Linked DNA regions of Homo sapiens: region 1 is linked to region 2. The links come from fine-mapping of genetic effects on gene expression. A gene starts in region 2. The other region holds a variant in brackets. All regions are shown on one strand. Distances are between the middles of the regions. Region 1 has its middle 24 kb from the start of KCNIP1. Region 2 holds the start of KCNIP1 (potassium voltage-gated channel interacting protein 1).

What was found. PIP is the estimated chance that this variant, and not a neighbour inherited with it, causes the effect. A credible set is the group of variants that fine-mapping cannot tell apart.
Region 1: its variant is the best candidate, but not a certain one, in a credible set for the expression of KCNIP1 in amygdala (GTEx, PIP 0.57).

Annotation. Positions count from the first base shown.
Region 1 is chr5:170,474,890-170,484,894 of GRCh38, reverse strand. It overlaps a transcript of KCNIP1 not described here. Among named protein-coding and RNA genes, the nearest start is that of KCNIP1, 24 kb to the left of the region's middle. The variant G/TCAGG (reference allele first, on the strand shown) is at 4,513.
Region 2 is chr5:170,498,126-170,508,130 of GRCh38, reverse strand. It overlaps KCNIP1 (potassium voltage-gated channel interacting protein 1), which reads right to left and starts at 4,111. Exons shown (of 8, transcript NM_014592.4): 1 at 3,498-4,111. The coding sequence starts at 3,558.

The sequences.
Region 1 (10,005 bases), 23 kb after region 2:
GGTGTGGCTACAGAGAGGGAGGGTGGCAAATGGAAGAAGATGTGGAGAGGGCAGATAAGTGAGCCAGAGACACGGAAGGAAGAAGGGAGAAGCAGAACGCAGAGAGAGGGTGGAAAGGTGGAGGAGGGTTTGAGAGGCAAAGGGCGAAAAGGAGCCTGGCTAAGAGAGATTTGGGAAAGGAAGAGAGGGAGAGGGAAAGAGGGAGGAGAGAGAGAAGGGGAGGGGGAAACGGGTAGAGAGAAGGACATGTTGAGAGGAGAAGAGAAAGAGAATGGCAACAGAAAGAGAAGAGGAAGAAAAGACGAATGGGTAGACAGAAACAGAACAGAGCAATGGAATGAAAAAAGGAGAGACAAGGTGGGGAGCACACAGCCTTGGAGGGAGAGAGGATGCCAGAGGGAGGCCCGGCAGCCACCAGGCTCTTTCCAGCTTCCCCAACGTGCGATGGAGGGCGTGCTGGCTGGGAGTCACCTGCCAGCCTCCTGGAGGGCCTGCACCTGATCAGCTTGTTTTCGCCATCTGAAGCTCTAAATGGTCTATTATCACAGAGAGAGCTCTTCACGTGTTTCCTCCCACCGCCGCCCCCGAGGAACACGTGCTGTATTTGTGAGGTGACTCATCTGGCTGCCACAACCTCTGGGATCCCAGGCAGAATGCACGTTAGGAGTTCACCTTCAATTGGCCACAGGGCGGAGGAGACGAGGCCTCAGTGGGGAGAGGGTGTGGAAGGAGCAACTTGGATGTGCCAGTCTTCTATCCTGTGGGGGTCGGGCTGATGCAGATGGCCAGCGGGATGCTCTGTGGGGGGATGGCATGATGTGAGTGCCCCCTGCTCCCTGGTGCCTTTTTTAGGCTGCCAGTCTCACCGAGGGACCTGAGAACTTGTCTAAGAAATTCCTGTTTCTCTTGGCAGCAAAGTGATGAGGTGGAGAATGGACACTCTCTCTCCCTTCTGGCCACAACTCAATTCCCCCAGGCTGTCTAAGTGCATCCTACTTCTCCTTTGTCACATTCATCAGTCATCACGTCACACTCATTGTGAAGTATTCTCATTATCATTGCGTCTTGCATGCCAGTAGACTGAAAGCTCCCTGACTGCAGAATGAACCAACGAATGAACCTATTTGCACCTATTTGGGAATCTACTTGCACCTATTTGGGAATCTACAGATGCTGCGTTTTTATCCCATGGAGGTATTTTTGACAACCATAAGGAAGGTGAAGTTCAGAGACAGGCAGCCACTAACTTGCAGGATACAGCTGTAAAGATGAGTGGGGGATTTAACCAACCCAAATGTGACTGATTGTAGAGTTGTCCCAACCATCTGGAACCTTGCGGCCCCACACAGATCACCATTGACATGCATTACCCAAGTTATGGAGTGATTGGTACTCTCTTCTTGCATGTTAACCCAATACAACCAGCCAGATATCCTTAAAGAAAAAGAAGCGAGAGGGGCTGTAGCAGACAGGAGATGTGGTCTTAAAATGGAGAGGATGGCTAGGTCCACTTTAAGGGGATTTAGAAGGTGACTGCAGATCTGTGCAATATCCCAGTGATGGTCACTAGAGAGTGCAGGAGTTGCATCTCCTCCTGGGGAGGGAATGTTGGCTTTCATCTTTTTAGTCCAAAGGTCCCCAGCCTGGGATCACCCTAGGGTGTTCCCACCACCCTGGGTTCCTCTTGCCTCATAGTTACCTATGATTTTCAGGCCTGGATGAGAGGCAGGGCGAGTGAGCTCCATGGAAATACCTGTCTCCACAGCCTGCAGGTGCACACACGTACTGCCCAAGCTATCCGGCTCTGCGGGCCCCAGTTCCACTTTTGACTCCATCTGTCCTTGGAAACAAAAGGGAAGAAAGGCTGTTTCTTCCACCTCATACTTTAATTTAAAATTTAGGCTATGTTTTCTAGGGATGCATGGAATCTAGTCATGACCTATTTGAAATACTGAAAGACCAGATAAAACCTCTCAGGACAGAAGGGGTGGGACAATAGCACCAAAATGCTTCTCCTGATAATTGTCCCAAACTCATACCTCTAAACATCACCAGCGCTGTTTCAGTGGAAGGCAGAATTGGTGGAAGAAGGCTGTGGAAGTTATTATAATTTTGGAGCTAATAAAAACCTCTCTCAGACAGGCTTGGCCTTGGACGTTACTTGACTCCCACAGCATACCAGATGAAATCTGGTCTCTGGGGACTTTTAAATCATCAATACCCAAGCCTCAGCAAAGACAAATTACATAAGAATGTCTGGGAGCTATGGCTTTTGGGGAGAGTGATTCCTCAAAACACTAACATCAGATATATCTAATTCCAGGCTCTGCCACCGCTCATCTGTGAGTCCTAGAGAAATCACTTCAGTTACTTGATCCGTGGTTTCCCCAAAAGTAAAATGAAGCAAATCATGGTGCAAATTTCATGGGGCTGTTGTAAGGGTTTTATGATATAATAGCTGCAAAAGGCCCCGTACTGTGCCTGGCACACATTAGGGATTCAAACATTGGCCATTGTAATTTTACTGTTATTATTCTTATTGATAAATATTGACTAATCGCTGGCTAAAATTATACCCTTCTTTGAACCCTGGGGAAAGTATATGAACTTGATGGTAGATGGGCACTGCTGGGGGAAGATTAATGGAGGTGTCCTGTGCTGCCTAAATAATAAATCTCTTCTCAAAGTGGACTCCAAGCAGAAGTGTCTTTCCTGTTATCAGCTGGTTGGAAAATATTAATATCACCCACATTCTCAATTGGCCTAAAACACCACCACTAGAGGAAATGCTAACATGGCTGGCTTGGTTTAAGACATAGACTGCAAAGCATCCCGTAACCACAGCCAACATTCTGTTAATCTTATCAGAGGGAAGCAGAATGCTTTAGCAGCTGATGGAGGGCAGGGATTTAAAGAATTCACTTTACTACCTACAGAAACAAAGAACAAGACTTGGAAACGGGGGCTCAGAAGCAAGAAGGGATGATTTCAGTTCTGATATGACCATACAGACCACTCAGGGAAAAACCCACCATGGATGAGTTCCTTCTTGTCACTATGAAATAAACTATAAAGAGCGATTGCTATAAAGCATGGGTGGGGTCATTCTCAATATTTCTTTCTGTCAAGGTAATAAATCCCAAATTCATAAGCCCCTTCAGATAAGGTTAGATGCAGGCCCCTCACTAAGGTGAACCTGACCTTACTTCTACACCCTTCAATTGAGTGACCAAGGATTGATGAGAAATATCAAGTATTTCATAAATATTTATTTTCTAAATATACAACTATAGAAAAGTGAGGTGTAACATATAGCTTGGATGAAGGGTTAAAATGTTAAGTATCTCATTGAGAAAAATGTGTTTGACATTTTTACATTAGAACAACATAATGGAGCAATGCTCACGCTAAACTGGGAACACTAATGTGAACTCAACTTAAATATTTTCCCACTTCTGTCACTAACAGTGGACACAGCAGCAGCAGCAGCAGCAGCAGCAGGAGTAGTACTAATGCCCACCACAACTCTCCTGTACCCCTAAATGGCCAGACTTTGTCTCTAACAGTTTTCTCCACTTAAAGAAACAGGGGCTCTTTGGAAGGGTTGTCCTGAGTAGGGTAAAACAAATGGTTTAAGCCTGGAAGTTTCTTTTGTAACCAGAAAGCAAGGATGCTTTCTAGAATATCACAGGGTGGTTCTGGAAGGACTAAGAAGCTAGATTAAAGAGGTTTCCTCTGGTCAAGCTCTGAGATTTTGAATATCAAATAAGATTGATGGCTATAATCAATTAAAACACATGGAGTCTGTGAAGAGCTGTAAGTTCCTAATGAAGCTATGAAGAGAAAAGTTGATGTAAATGGCAAATGCGATAGGGTTTTATTTCATATTATTTTTAATGGCAGATTTATATATGGGTGATATTATTTCTTCTATTAAATATATGTTGGGTTATTAAGCATCGATAGGCACTTTTCTCTATCCTTGTAAGAAGGAAAGAGTGAATTTTGAATACAACTAATAGTCCTGGAAAAAAATAGAAATTAGTAGTCATGCTTGGTAACATGTAAAGAGGGAACTGATAACATGGAAGGATAATTGGCCAAATGTGCTCGTAAGGACAGCAAACTGCAGGGTTTAAATTCCTCGTCTTGGCCGGGTGCAGTGCCTCACGCCTGTAATCCCAGCAGTTTGGGAGGTTGAGGTGGGTGGATCACTTGATCCTGGGAGTTTGAGACCAGCCTGTGAAATATGGAGAGACCCCATCTCAAATACAAAAAATACAAAAAATTAACCAGGCGTGGTGGCATGAGAATCTCTTGAACCCAGGAGGCAGAGGCTGCAGTGAGCCGAGATCACAACACTGCACTCTAGCCTGGGTGATAGAGCGAGACTTTGTCTCAAAAAAAAAAAAAAAAAATCCCTAGTCTCCTAGGAGATGAAGCGCACTTTAGGAAACACTCTGGTCTCAGAAAAGGATACCAATGTGAAGGCACGGACTTTTATATTCTTAG[G/TCAGG]CCACATTTAAGCTCAAGTGCAATAATGTTGGGAGACACTTTATCAGTTTCAAATAAGAATCAGTAACCCCAGAGCTGGCTGGCCTGAGATTATTTTTCTTTTGGTTCTGAAAGAAATTTGTATTCTTAGGAGAAACTGTATCACTTCATACTCTAATCCTAGGAAACGATCGCATTGACTCTAAGAAAGTAACAGAGAAAATATAAGAATAAGTATAAAAGTACTTTTTAAAACCAATATATACCCATAATCTTCATGCCTTTGTAACCAGTGTAAAGGTAAGTGTGCATATATATTTTTCAATCAGTATGACGTTTTGTGTGCATTTTTGCTGACTTTTTAGGTGTTTGAAACATTTAAAAGGGTCTGACATATTAAACTTATGGTTTTATTTAAAAGTGTTGGAGAGTGTGGTTAAATAATTTTGTAAACAATGGTTTATAAGTTTGGGAATTTTTAATTGTTTCAATTTTTAATAAGTTTTTGATTTATTAATTGTGCAGATAGTGTTCGAATGTCAAGAGGAATATTGTTTAATAGATGTATAAAATTCGGAAGTTAAATGTTAAACAAAGCACAAATATGAATCAGGAACACTAATCAGTGCTTTGTTTAATATTTAACTGATTGCTGAGTCAGTTTTGGTGACAAATATCCTACCAATGCATCACAGCCAAGATTCCAGAGCCCCCATGTGGGCAAAACAACTCGGTATTACCCTTATGGAACTGTAGTAAAAGCAGAAGGGACAGATACATTTTTCCTTGGGGTATGTCATGCTGAGCTTGCATTTTACTATGGCGATTCTTAGAAAAGGAGAAGTCTTCATGTCTTAAAGGAATTGATCAAATGGAGCTTTTCTTGGTCCTTTGCAGAAGGTGATTTAATTCTTCTATTAAATATATGTTGGGTTATTAAGCATCGATAGGCACTTTTCTCTATCCTTGTAAGAAGAGTGAATTTTGAATACATCTAATAGTCTTGGAAAAAAATAGAAATTAGTAGTCATGTTTGGTAACATGTAAAGAGGGAACTGATAACATGGCAGGATAATTGAGGGGGATCTTTGGGACAGGAGTCCTAACCTCTCCCCCAGTTTTCTCTGGTGCTTTCTGCTAGTGCCTGCTAAGACCTGAAGTTTACTTGTTTTCCATCAGAACTCTGAGATTCTTATTTTATTAAACCATATAATCAGGATTTTATAGTCTAGGAAAACATAGACCATTACCTGCTCAGCGCCTCCAGCTAGTGACATCTTAGAAATACAAGCCCCTAGTTCTCTTAGTAACCAAAGGAGTGGAGTCCTTTCTGAAGGCTTGAATTCTATCTGACACTACACATTTGTGGATTTCTCTGCTTTGATGCCTTCTTGACAGATAACGTGCAATCCCCCTTTTCAAAGTCTAAAGAAAACAGGATTGAAACATTTGGGAGCAAATGCCCTGCAAATATGGCCAACCTTTTTTTTTTTTATCTTCCTTTTCATTAACCACATTGAGAGTCATGCATGAAACTTAGATCTATATTGGTGTTTCATTTATAGGAAGTGTTCAGCTGTCTGTCATTTTTATTCACCCTAAGCATCTTGAACATCCTACCGAACTGTAATCTTGAAAGCTAATGCTTCATGAGAAACCTTTTCTTTTTTTCTTTAGAGCATACAAGTGTGTCCTATTTAAAAGGAACCCAAGATGCCAAAATTCTCACATAGAAACTTAGACATCTTGGCAATTGTTCTTGCAATGGAAAACTGGGCTTGGTAGAGAGATGGTTCCCCGGGGAAACTGACCATGGTGGAGTCGCACAGTCTTGCAGTAAGCCTTCGGACACAGGCTGAGTTCAGAGTCCCTAGGGCCATCTGGAGCTGCCAGCCAGAAAGTAACACACCTTTGTGAGGATGGCAGCCCGAGGGATCTACACTCCATCAGGACTGCCATTAACAGCAGGTGTCCTTATGGGACTGGAAGGCCGGGGAAGCTTGTCCTCCAGCCATGAGCGTTGCATAGTCTCTCAGTCCATTAAAAGAGCCAAATTAAAGGAACATGCATCCTTTTCCTAAGTCTGTGATATCTTTCTAACCATTATGCTCCCAAACTTTATGATAATCATGTAATAACTAAACAAGGAACTTACAAAAGGTATCAAATGAATACAACTACAATAAAGTCCATTTGGATAAAGCCCCAAATCTTTACCTGCCCCTTCCCGCCCCAGGCCTTCTATCATTTGACCACTGTTGCCTCTCTGGCTTCATCTTGGCAGGTCCCCTCATGTGCCCTCTGCACTGAAAGATGGAGGTAGGTGTCTTGGACTGAACCTCCCAGGAGGCATGAAATTCTGAGATCCTTCAATGAGGCTTCTGCCATGAACCCTCCCCTGACACCTCCCCAGCAACCAGTTCAATTGGTACCATCTTCCCTGGAGGCACTTCTATTGGAGTTTTTTTGTCATACTCTACTGCAAATATTAATTTATAGATCTATGAAGATGTGGGCTCTGAGGACAGGACTGTGTGGGATTCATCGCTATCTATCCAGTGGCCTGTACAGCACAACACTCAAAAATGTTTGTTCAAGGAGTAAGCAACAGCCACTAATGACTCCAAACCTGGCTATCAAGTAAATAGATAAGAGCCAACCCGGCCAGGTGCTTTCACTCACACCTCTAATCCCAGCACTTTGGGAGGCCGAGGCAGGCAGATCACAAGGTCAGGAGTTCAAGACCAGCCTGGCCCACACGGTGAAACTGTGTCTCTACTAAAAAATACAAAAATTAGCTGAGCATGGTGGCATGTGCCTGTAATCCCAGCTACTTGGGAGGCTGAGGCAGGAGAATTGCTTGAACTGGGACCCAGGAGGTGGAGGTTGCAGTGAGTGGAGACTGTGCCACCGCACTCCAGCCTGGGCTACAGAACGAGACTCTGCCTCAAAAACAAATAAACAAAACAAAACAAAACAAAAAAGCCAACCCAGGAAATAAACACCTTTAGAGGGCAGTTATATCTCAGATTTTAACAAGAAATATTTACTTTCTAATATATATGTGTATATATATATATGTAATATATATGTGTATATATATATACACACACATCCCCAGAGTGAATTTACAGGTCCAAGTAACATATACTTTCTGATATATATATATATCTCCCCAGAGTGAATTTACAGGTCCAAGTAACATATAGGAAATGTCTTCATTTCTCAGCCCAAGAAAAGGCCATTTATTTACTGACTTATGTATTTACTTACTTCTACTTTTTTGAGCAGTCTTAGGTTCACAGTAAAATTGAGCAGAAAGTACAGAGAATTCCCATTTATCTGTCTCCATACACTTACAGCTTCCCTCACTTCAACATTCCACATTACAGCGGTGCATTTATTACAATCTGTCAACCGACATTAACACATTATTACCACCCAAAGTCTATAGTTTACATTAGGATTCACTCTTAGTCTTGTAGGGAAGGCCATTTATAATGTACATTCCCAAACTGTCTCTGTGCTTGGTAATTTATGTTGAACATTACTGCGAGGATGTGGTGAGAATATTTTCATTTTTCATGAATAGAAGGATCTTGAGACTCTTTGATATATGGTAGAGAGTGATGTGTTAGCTGGTGGGATAACAATGCTTTTCCTTAAGAGTGGATGTCTAAAGCAGAAGTCAGCAGAAACAGGCGATTTTCTGTACCAAAATTTGCCTTACGATCAAAATTTCAGGCCCGCAGCCATTTCAGCGGGTCATAGCACTATCCCAAGACCGTAACTTTGATACAAGCCACCACTGAAAGGTCAAAATTCAAGACAAATTGTCATACTGCTATTTTTTAAGGCTAAACAAAAATTTTTCTATTCATATTGTGTTTATCAACAGTGTGCTTTTAACTAATTAGCCATGAAGAAGGGGGAGATTGGAACAGAGGAGAAGTTTACCATCTAATGTATGACACCAAGACAGTTCAGTCAAAATGTAGAGAAAACAGAATCTGTTTGTTCCGGCTGGAATTGAGAGGACAGTTCAACACTTCGATATTTCATCATCTGTTATTGTAATTAGTCAGAGATATGAGCATCTAAAAATTTGGAACTGCTAATTAGAAACAAGTTTAGGCTGGGTGCAGTAGCTCATGCCTGTAATCCCAGCACTTTGGGAGGCCAAGGCTGATGGATTGCTTGAGCTCAGAAGTGAAAGACCATCCTGGGCAACATGGCAAAACACTGTCTCTACAAAAAATACAAAAATTAGCGAGGCATGGTGGCACAGGCCTGTAGTCACAGCTAGTCAGGAGGCTGAGGTGGGAGAATCACTTGAGGCTGCAGAGGTTGAGGCTGCAGTGAGCTGAGATCGCACCACTGCATTCCAGCCTGGGTGACAGAGTGAGACCCTGTTTCAAAAAAAAAAAAAAAGTTTAAACCAAAATTGTTCTAATAATCATTTCTTCTCCCTGACCCCAGAAAAAGCATGGGCCACTTGTCACCCCTCAACCTACTCCTGACAAGGGGGTAATATTGGATGATTCAGGATTTGGCTCTGAGCTGGGAATAGGATCAGTTTCTTCTCGGCAGGGGGTGGATTCCTGAACAAAATTGGGTCTGTTAGTAAGGAAGTAGGGGGAAGGAGGGGAGGACATGGAGGTGGGCTAGATAATCAGTCTGTTTTGGCTTTGAGGTCCTTTGTGGCTCTCAAATAAGAACCCCCCACAAAGAGGCCCTGCTGCAGTTGTGTTTGGAGCAGCATCCAGAACAGAAAGATATATTGAGATTTCCTGTAACTTTGTGACTTCTCCTTTTGTTTTGTTATTTTTATCTCCTCTATTTCCCTGTCTTACCAGCAGTGAGAGCCCTTAACTTAGAACAACCTAAGAAAAGCTGCTGTCTTGTTCCAGGACAGCCGTGTGGGAGTCACCTCTCAGTGGGTCTGCAGCAGGAGTCAGGGAGGTTCCTCCCAGCACCGCCCTCCTCTTCTAGACAGAAGCAAGTGGACTAGCTTCCGAAGCTTTGTTCGAATAACACTTAGGCCATGCCTGGCACGCAGGAGCTGGTCAATGTGAGGCTGAAATAAATGTGCAGAAATGGACATGGTAGAGAGGGAAGCCAAGCAATGAAATAAAAAAGCTTGGAGGTTGGTCACACTGAGAGGTGAAGCCAGCTGGACTTCTGGGTCGGGTGGGGACTTGAAGAACTTTTCTGTCTTACAAGGGGATTGTAAAATGCACCAATCAGCACTCTGTAGCTAGCTAGAGGTTTGTGAAATGTACCAATCAGTGCTCTGTCAAAATGCACCAATCAGCACTCTGTAGCTAGCTAGAGGTTTGTAAAATAGACCAATCAGCACTCTGTAAAGTGGACCAATCAGCACTTTGTAAAATGGACCAATTGGCACTCTGTAAAATGGACCAATCAGCAGGACATGGGCAGGGACAAATAAGGAAATAAAAGCTGGCTACCCTGACCAGCGGCGGCAACCCAGTGGGGTCCCCTTCTACGCGG
Region 2 (10,005 bases):
CTCTGTTGAGATGGCCTTGGTCTAGTGATGTTGTCCCTAAATTCTCCTGCCCCGCTGACAAGCCCAGCAGCTGCACCTGTATGGTCCTCCTCTGGTTCTCCTCAATGCCCTAGCCTGTCTCACTTACCCATTCAAGGCCAGGAGCAGTGTCCTTGGTGTGTCATGCACATGCAAAACTGCTAGAGTCAGAAATTCTATCTGGGACTGGGATGCAGAGGCTGAATCCCAAAAGCAGGGCTCTCCTACTTTTAATTAAAGACACACAAAGATCCCAAACAGAGAGAAGGACAGGAAATGAACCTGAATATTTTTATTCAGTGGCATGGCTCTTAAATTACTTTAGATTTCTGTTGCCTTTAGAGAGCGCTCCCTGAACACCCAGGTTGGGCTGGATATCTTCTTGCAGCACTAATCATGCAGAGTTTTTGCCCTATTTAAAAACTATGTATGTTTCTAAATTGTATTATCAAGGCATTCAGGATTTTAATTGAGCAGGCTTTGATGTTTTCAGGACAAGCCACAGAGTAGAGGTCAGTGAGGGTTGAAGCAAGGGACGAGCATCTGTGTGCTGGGGTTTTTGGTCCTAGTTATCTGGATAGGGCTGGATAAGGTTTCCAGAAATGAGCTGTTAAGGCTCTCAGATGTACTGCCTACTTCGAAAATGGCCTTACTCTGGACATTTGGAAGCCCCAAACAATAGAGCCATAAATTGAATAGTACCTCAAATTTGCTGACCACTTATGTAGCAGAGACTGTGCTAAATGCTTGACTTGCATGATCCTTGAAATCCACACAACACAACAGCTATTTTAAGATGGTAACTACTACTATCTCTGTTTTATAGTTGAGGAAAACAAGGCTTAGTCATACAGCTAGTAAGTGGCAGAGCCTGAATTTGAACCCAGCAGGGAGACTGATTCCTGAGTTGAAAAATCCCAACTGCTCTCTTCCGGTTGCTTCTAATTAGATCTGAGCCTCACGTCTCTGAGATCATAGCAGCAGCTCTGGTGAGAGCATCAACCATAAAAATATTAGAATTTGAGAACCAAATGGAACCTGAGGAAATGCCTAATGTAAGTTTCTCCCTTTACAAAGAAGAAACCGAGGCCCCAGTGGGGAAAAGTGACCTGGCCAGGATAGGCTCCCTGACCACTAGCCTCCTCAGCCAGGGCTTCCTCCAGGTTTCCAAGCTGCCTCCCATAGAAGGGTCTTCTGCTGATTAGCATTCCACTATGCAAGGCAGTGAGATGACTGTGCTTCGGGGGCAAATACCTGGGGGAACATATGCAGCTGGACCCCTGGACAACTCACGCCAGTGGGCTTTGTGCAGGAAGGGCTGAGTGCCCAGTGCTTCGATAGCTTGTCTTGGGAGTCCACCCATTGGCCCCGAACCTGCTATGAGCCTCAAACGAACATTGTTGTGAGGGTTAAATGAGAGTTGTTGATAAAACACCGAGCATTATGGCAAGCACACAGTAGGGACACACTGAATGCCAGTACCCCCTCTTCTGTTTCTTAGAATCCGAGGAGACAGAAGCAAAGACCTTTGTACTCTGGGAATCCTGCAGGAATTCATCCAGGGTGAATTCCTGGATGTTTGGGGCAGGAGAAGGAAATGGTAGACAGCAATGTCTGAGCTCTTACTCTTTTCCCAGCCCTATGCACGGAGCTCCCTATTCATCATTCATTTGATTCTCACATCCTTACAACAACTTCCTCTGGGTCCCTGGTGGCTGCAGCCAACACAGTATATGAGGCAGAGTCTTCCCTTCCTCTACTTCCTACATACCCTTCCCTCCGGGAAGTAGCATACGAATTTCATGGATGAAAAACTGAGGCTTAGGGAGGTGCGGGGGACTTTCCTAAGGTCCCAGAGGCAGGGAGTGATGGAGCTGGGATTCACACCCAGACTCCACTTGACTCTAGGGCTTGAGATCTTTCTGTGACACCCAGCTCCCAGGAGAGCCACAGGCATTGAAAATATTTAAAAACAAGCCCCTGACTTTCCTGTCCCCACAGTCCCCTGGCCTCTGAGACCGCATGGTGGTCAGACAGATGATGAGGGAGAAGACCTATATTTGGCGCTGAAAATTGTCCCCAGTCAAGCAGCATCCCAGGATCTGTGAGAGGTGAGGCTTAGAATGTCAAGGCCTTGGGCTGAGCTTTGCAGACCTGTTCTGGTCAGGACTGGTAACAGGACAACCAGTCCCTTCCTTGCCAGCAGGACATGTAACTCAGCTGGACAAATGGGCCAAAGCCTCTTCCTATGTTCTAGGATGTAAATGCCAACCCAGCTTCAGCACCTAAGATCTGCACCCAGAGATCTCTTTCCTCGGGGCTCAGCCAGCCTGATGCCCCTGGGAGCTGGGCCAGAAGCTGGGACCCCTTCTTCCAGGGGGTTTCAAGGACAGCTTACTTATGGAGATCTCTGTGGTTCTAAACAGGGTGAGACCAACCAAGTTCTAAGAGGAGACTTATTGTTCACTTGGGGTCCCTTACCCCATTACACTTCTACTCACTATCAGGCCTGTAGGGTAGGAGCTTAACTCCCACCTGTATCCAGGATGGGGGCTCTGATGGTAGAATTTGAATGTTTAAGTGTCAAGCTGCTTAAAATCTTACCACTCGTAGTGACATTTGAACATTAAACAAAACAAAACCCATCATTTCCCGTTTCCTAACTGCTTCCAGTCTCTTTATTCCAACCACTAACTTTTGAACTGCTGGTAAGGAGACCTGCATTGTCCTCCAGGGCCCAACACACTGGTTCCAACTTCACCTGGACCCATTTGAGGACTCTCCCACGGATGGTGAGATCAGCCATGCCTCGGCTGGGGACAGGTGGTGAAGGAACAGCGTCCAGGCAGAAGAGACTCCACGATATTATGCTTTTTAATCCTTGATGTAAGCTCAGCTCGCAGCCAGCCCTTCACGGTTGCTCCTCCTGACTCCCGGAGCCACCAGGACATGAGGCCTGGGAGTTTTACCCCTGGCAGCAGCTGATTCCTTTTGGCTTGCAGAGGTTTTGGGGGTGCAGACAGAGCACTCTTCCTGATGAAGGGACTCGCAGGTCTGCACCTGGCATAGCCGCCTAGGAGGAGTGTGGGAGTGTGGCAGCACCCTCACTGAGTGCTCAAACGCCAGCTGTCATGGGAATGGGAAGAGCTTCACCACACTTCCACCAGAGAATCCGGTCACCCCCACCTGTGAACATGCCGCTTCCTTCGGCTCTCAGAGATTTCCCCAGGAGGAGAGTCCCGACACCTGGTGCCCCAGAGGGGTCCAGTTGCCGCTGGGGCAGACGTCCACTCCGGCTCCCTCCTCTGGGTGTTCACACCAGCCCTCCCGCCGATTTCTCTCTCCTTTGGATACAAGCACCTGTCCGGGCTCCTCGTGGAGAGGAGAGTCCGGACTAAGGGAGGCAGGTGGCACAGCCCACCTCGGCGCCTAGCACCCCCAAGCCCAGACAGGGGAACAAAAGGAAGAAGGTGGCTTACCTTTCGAGGGTCGCCTTTGTTTGGTTTGCAGAGATGAGAAGGTGCCCATGACGGCCCCCATGGCAGCGAAGACTTGAGTGCGAGTTGGGACCCCGGGCCCGGCCCCTCCCCTACCCTGGAAAGAAATCCCCGTGGTTTGTCTACTCTGAATTGGAGGAGAGAAAAGCGCCCGGCAGCTCGCCTGCAGCTTGGTATTCAGCAAGCGTGGAGGCGAGGCTAGGAGGCTTCTGGCTTCCTTCTTCAGCCCCGCACATGCAGGGACTCAGGGCTAGCCGCTCCCCGCGAGCCTTCGGAACCGCTTCCCCGCGCGAGGACCCGGCCCGGCGGTTCCCTCGCCCAGGGCCGAGGACGGTGCCCTGAAGCCTGCCTGGCACTGGACACGGGGCCAGAGCGGCCGCCCGGCCGAGGCTGCCGAGCCAGCGCCGCGTGCGGTGCGGGAGCCGCCGTCCGCCCGCCCCTCCTGCCGCACACTCGGCTCCCCTCCCTGCGCTCGGGCTGGGTCTCGGAGGGCCGAGTACCAATCATGAATGAACAGAGCCCGGACCGCGCGGCGCGGAGCCACAGCGCGCCCGCCTGCTGCCTGCTGCCTGCTGCCAGCGCTCGGGGCGAGAGTCGGAGCGGCGGAGGGGGCGGCGGAGGGGGCGGCGGGCGGGCAACTACGGAGGGGCGGGGCGGGGGCGAGGGCTGCACGGTGGGGGCGGGGGACGCCCAGCCCTGCGCCCTCACCCCTGCGCACCCTCATCTGCCGGGGTATGTGCGGGAGCCCCGGGAGCATGTAACCCTAAGAGACAGACCCGGGGCCAGGCACCTGGCTGATGGGTGAGGTTCAGGGGGCAGTAGATTGGCCCCAGGGAGACTGTGTGTGTGTATGTGTGTGTGTGTGTGTGTGTGTGTGTGTGTGTGTGTGTGATGTGCGTGCGTGCGTGTGTGTGTGTGTGTGTCCCTGTGTGTGGTGCATTGTGATTTCATTCGACTTCAAGGGAAATCTTATTTAACCCACTGCCTGAACTCATGGGGAGGGGGAAAGTCTGCCCCACCCAGAAAGGGGTGAAAAACACATCCAAATGGGTGGTCATGGGAAGAAGGTGCCGTCCTGCTCCGCGGGTCCTTGAGGGTTCTGCAGAATCCTCCTATGGCAGGGCCCACCTTCTAGTGACAGGGAGTTGGGGAGGAGAAAGGAGCCCTCAGCCCCTCTGGGCCCTTACACTCTCATTTTTCTTTTTCTTTTTTTTTTTTTTTTGAGACGGAGTCTCGCTCTGTTGCCCAGGCTGGAGTGCAGTGGTGCGATCTCTGCTCACTGCAACCTCTGCCTCCCAGATTCAAGCGATTCTCCTGCCTCAGCCTCCGGAGTAGCTGGGATTACAGGCGCCCACCACTAGGCCCAGCTAAATTTTTTTGTATTTTTTAATAGAGACGGGGTTTCGCCATGTTGGGCTGGCTGGGCTTGAACTCCTGACCTCAGGTGATCCACCCGCCTTGGCCTCCCAAAGTGCTGAGATTACAGGCGAGAGCCACCCCACCCGGCCTGCTCTCTCATTTTTCTGTTTCTTTCCTCCTTGGTTCTACCTCTTCTCCCTTTCCAGCTCAATAATTCATTAGCCATCAGCTCCTGGGCACGGGTTGTTAGTGCTTGAAGGGGCAATGATTAGATTTAGGAAGCCATTTCCCTTCTGTGAGTGGCGTCTCACCCAATGGGCAAAGTTTGCGTCCCTGCCTGTGGACTCAAAGCCTTGTGGTGTTGAATTGCAAGGTTTGCTCCCTGGAAGGTGGAGGAAGAGCTTCCCCTCCCCCAAGTCTGAGCTGCTTGGGTTCCCACTGAGACCCATTTTGATTGACACTGAGGATCCTTTGCCCAAGCTGCCCCCTACAATCCCACCCAGCCATTTTCTGTCTGCCACACAGATACACACCATGCTAGCAGTTCACAGAATACCCGGATGTATGGCCTCATAAACAAGCATGCATGCCCAGAAAGTCCCACAAACATATGGGCGCAGGTCCTTAAGTCCGCACAGACATTGCTATTGTACACACAGACAGACCCAAGGCTCATAATACACCTACAGTTGCCCCCCACGAAGGTGGAGAGACACACAAACACACAGGCATGCAGACGCACACACAGCAAAACAGCATGACAGTCACCACATTCACACAGGCTCAATGCCACATAGGCACAGAGTTGAATCCCCAGGATACAGGCCCCTTGAGAGCTGCTTCCCCTAATGCCAACCCATGAGCTGTCCCCTCAGGGCCACAGGTAGCCTGTGACTTGGCCAGGGTCCTTGAATAGTTTTCTTCACCTGTGCAGCATTTATTGCTTTTCTGCAATCCCAGCATGTGTCCTGTTTTGTGCAACAGGGGAGGGGCACTTACTAACATACTTCCTTTCCTTTGCATTGCCCACTGCTGTGCAACCACATTGTCCACGTGATGCCCACCAAACCCCTGTGAATTAAGCAGGTGCCTGATCATTACCCCAGAGAGAAATTGAGGCTTACCTTGTGTTAGAAATTTGCCTGAAGTTGCCCAGCCAGGATGTGGGATTAGAACTTGGGTTCCAGGCCTCTGTCGTGGTCTCCTGGGGAACCCCTGCTCACAGATGAGGGCACTGAGCCAGAAAGACCTGCTGGGGGTCCCACCAGATTCACAACCTCTGCTCTCCTAACTGCCAGCTCAGGGCTTGTCCAGGCCAGGGAGGCCTGGAATCCTGGAAGATGGAGCAGGGGCTGGTCCCTGCTTCCCTCCTGCCTTCTCTGTTCGAGAAGAGGGCATGCGAGGCTGAAGCTTGGGGTCACTAGAGGACCCAGTGGGATATCCAGGATTCAGGGAACAGAGGAGAGCTCTTTGCTGAGGAGAAAGTTAAGCCACCCTGGGTGTCTTTGCCAACTTGTCAGGGATACCACTGGGTGAGCACCAAGCTACTTCCCCCTTGGGGCTCTGCTAATTTTCATGGTACCTGAATGACCATAAGGACAGCACTTGAGAGGTCACAAAAGGCTAGAATGTCATCCTCTCATTTCTGCTTCCCCACAACCCACTGAAGAAGCAGAGTACAGATGACTTGCTCCATTTTGCAGATCAGAAATAGCAAAGTGCTTCTGGACGTGTTTGCAATTGGCTGCCTCTGAACAGTAGGTATAAAGTGAAGTCACCAAAATAAAATCCAAACCATTGAACATGAATTATGAGGTCTTTTTTGTGGCCTGTGGCTTCTTCTACAAATCCTCCCTGACCCCTGGTGTTCCCTTTGTGGCTCAGCCACCCAGACCCCTCACTATTTCTCAGATGCGTGTTGTGGTTCTCCTTCAGGGCCTTTGCACGTGCTGTTCCCCTTGCCTGGAATGTTCCTCACCTCTTTCTCCTTCTGGCCACCTGCTGCTTACCCTGGAATATCTACTGCAGATGTCATCTCCTCCAGGGATCCCTCCCTGGCCCTGAGTCGGTGCCCTGCTTGTGGTTTCCATAGCACCCAGGGCTTCTTATCAGAGCACTCCTTACTTTGTTTCTCATTGTTCCTTTCCTTGCCTGTCTCTCCCTCTGGACTGTTTTAACTGCTTTACATACTGATTTAACTCTCTACTTTCTGCTTAACCTCCGGTTTCTGACAGGGGTGCAGCCAACCTATGCTGAATAAATGAATGAGTGAGTCTCTTTTCTTTGCTCAGTGACCCAGTTAGTAAGCAGAAACTGATGATTACCAGATCATCCTTGCCCCTTAAAGGAAGACACATGCTCTGCCAAGTGAAGATTCATTCATTCACTTATTTATTCAACAAATATTCATTCATTCATGTATCTACCATGTACCAGATATTTACATGCACAATAGCTCATTTATTCCTGCGGACGCCTTGTGACATGGGTATTATTTGCAGATAAATACACACACATACGCACGTGCCCACTGTACAATGCAGCCAACATCACCCATGAGATGCTCACAAAGAATGTGTCTAAGTAGAAGAACACAGGTAAGTGTGAGGGGCAAGAGAGAAAGATGATGATAACAGGCCCTCTGCCTGCCTCCTGGGAACTTGCAACAGAGAGCAAAGAACTGCATGGGGAGAGAGGGAGTGACAAAATGAATGTGCAGAGGGAGTGCTGAAGAAGCCTCCCATCAGTCACCCTGACTGCAGGAGCCATTTGTCCTGTTGTCCCTCCCATGATGTACTCAATACAGCGACCTTGCCAGCCCCATCCAACCTGAGCTTCAGTGGCTGTTGCTCCCTTTACTCTGGAAGGTGAACTAGCTCATGCACTTTCTCCAGCTCTGACCCCTCCCTCATGCACCCCGGTGTGGACTGAATGTTTGTGTCCCTCCAAAATCCCTGTGTTGAAGCTCTAAGCCCCTGTATGGCTGTATTTGAAGAAGGGACCTCTAAGGAACTAATGAAGGTTAAAAGAGGTCATAAGGGTGGGGCCCTGATCTGATAGAGTTAGTGTCCTTACAAGGAGAGACTCCAAAGACCCCCCACGCACAAAGATACCATGTGAGCACACAGGGAAAAGGCAGTTGCAACACAAGGTGAGAGGCCTCACCAGACACCAACCCTGCTGGCACCTTGATCTTGGACTTCCAGTTTTCAGAACCATGAGAAAATAGATTTCTGTTGTATAAGCCACCCAGACTGGGGTATTTTTTGAAGGCATTCCAAGCAGACTGATGCGCAACCCCAGTGTCAATCCATGAGCTCAGAAAGTTCTGGACGCAAGGCCTTCCTTCTGCCATAAGCCTCTATATAGGACTCCTTAGGCAACCCCTCTAAGGTTGTTCAGGGAGGAAGGAGTGAGATTGTCAGACCTGCAGGAATCCTGTTAAAACATGCATGTGCTTGTCTGAGTTTATGTAACACACAAGCCCTGTTCTTTCCCTCCCTCCCCCTCTCCTTTCTTCCTCTTTGTATCTCTTTCTTTCTTAATTTATTTCTTCCTCCCTGCTGCCTCCTTCCTCCCTACTCAGTGCTCCCTTAGCCATGTTTCTTCTCATCCTTATGGACAACAGTAGTTCCTTCCAGGCACAGAGGTAGCATAGAGTCAGATTGAGAGCATTAATTTGGGAGGCTGCTAGAATTGGGTTCAAACACTGAGCTTGCCCCTTTACTCTGAGACTGTGGGCATGATGAGTACGATCTCTGAACCCTGCTTTCAGCTTCTTGTGGATTACTTTCATAATTCCTTTAGTAAGTGGTAGTGTTGCTGTGAGGGATTGGTGACATGATGTTTGTGGGGCCCTTAGCAGGTGCCTGGCACATAGAGTGGCCCATTATTGAAGGTGGACTGCCCTATTCCTGTTGCTGTGGGCCAGACATCATGCTGGGTTACAGGGGTATAAAAATGAGTAAGCCACAGCATTTCCCTCGGCTCCCATCTTTGCTCTTCATCTGTTTGATAGGAAATCTATTCTCAGGGTCCCCATCTGGTATTAAAAGACTCAGATTAGTTAAGGAAGGGAATGCAGTTGGCACCTGATTATGTGCAATTCAGCACTATGCTTGCTGCTGTCTTGTACCATTTCCCAAATGTTCTGCATGCATAAGTCTGGCCTCAAATAGACTGGGAGCTTTTAGAAAGCAAAGGCCGAGTTTCCTGCTTTGCATACCCCACCTCCACCGCCCCCATCCACCGCCACTCAGCCTGGCCCAGAACATCCTAAGTGTGCTACAAATACTCAAACTGAGATCCTTCAGGGCAGGGGAAAGGGTGTCATCATTTACCCCTGAGCTCATATGAACCCAGTCCCATGTCCCCTGGTATGTACACCTGGCCGTTAGCCTCCTCATCTGTGAAACATGAACCCAATCATGTCAGGGGATTGTTGTGAGAATGGGGTAAGATAAAGTAAAGGGAAAGCACTTGTCTCTCTGTAGAGCACTCTGCAAATGTCCTTTATTGTTATTTGCTTTGGGGCTCATTGGATCATTCATTCATTCATTTATTCAATGAATATTTATTAAGCACCATCTACCTGCCAGGCGCTATTCTAAATATATGGATCAATAATGAGCAAGAAGAGGCAAGAGTACCTGCTCTCAGGAAGCTGGAGGTCTAGGGCTGAAGAAAATCAAATCATCTCCTCATTGCAAATTGCATTCAGGCTAGGAAGGAAAGAGTGGTGCAGTAAGTTCAGGGTAGCAGGTGCTTGGAGAAGCCAGGTATCACCTTGTGTGAACAGTGAAGTGATGACATAGGACATATAGATCTTCAGAGGGCAGGGAAGTAGATATGAGTTTCAGGTCAAGCAGATCAGGCTTAAAGTCCCGGATTTGTTTTGTGACTTTGGGCAAGTTATTTGACCTTTGAGCCCCTCAATTTCCTCATGTTTGCAAGGAGAACAATCTCAGCAATGTCGTTGGAGGTCGCAGGGTGAGGCTGAAAGTGATCGTGATTACAAAAGTGCCTGACACAGGGTCTCCCTGGCTGGAACACAGTCCTGATTCAGAAAACACAAACTCCATGCCTCACTTTCCCCTTCCAGTTCCCTTTGCTTGGACCTTCTCCCCTACCT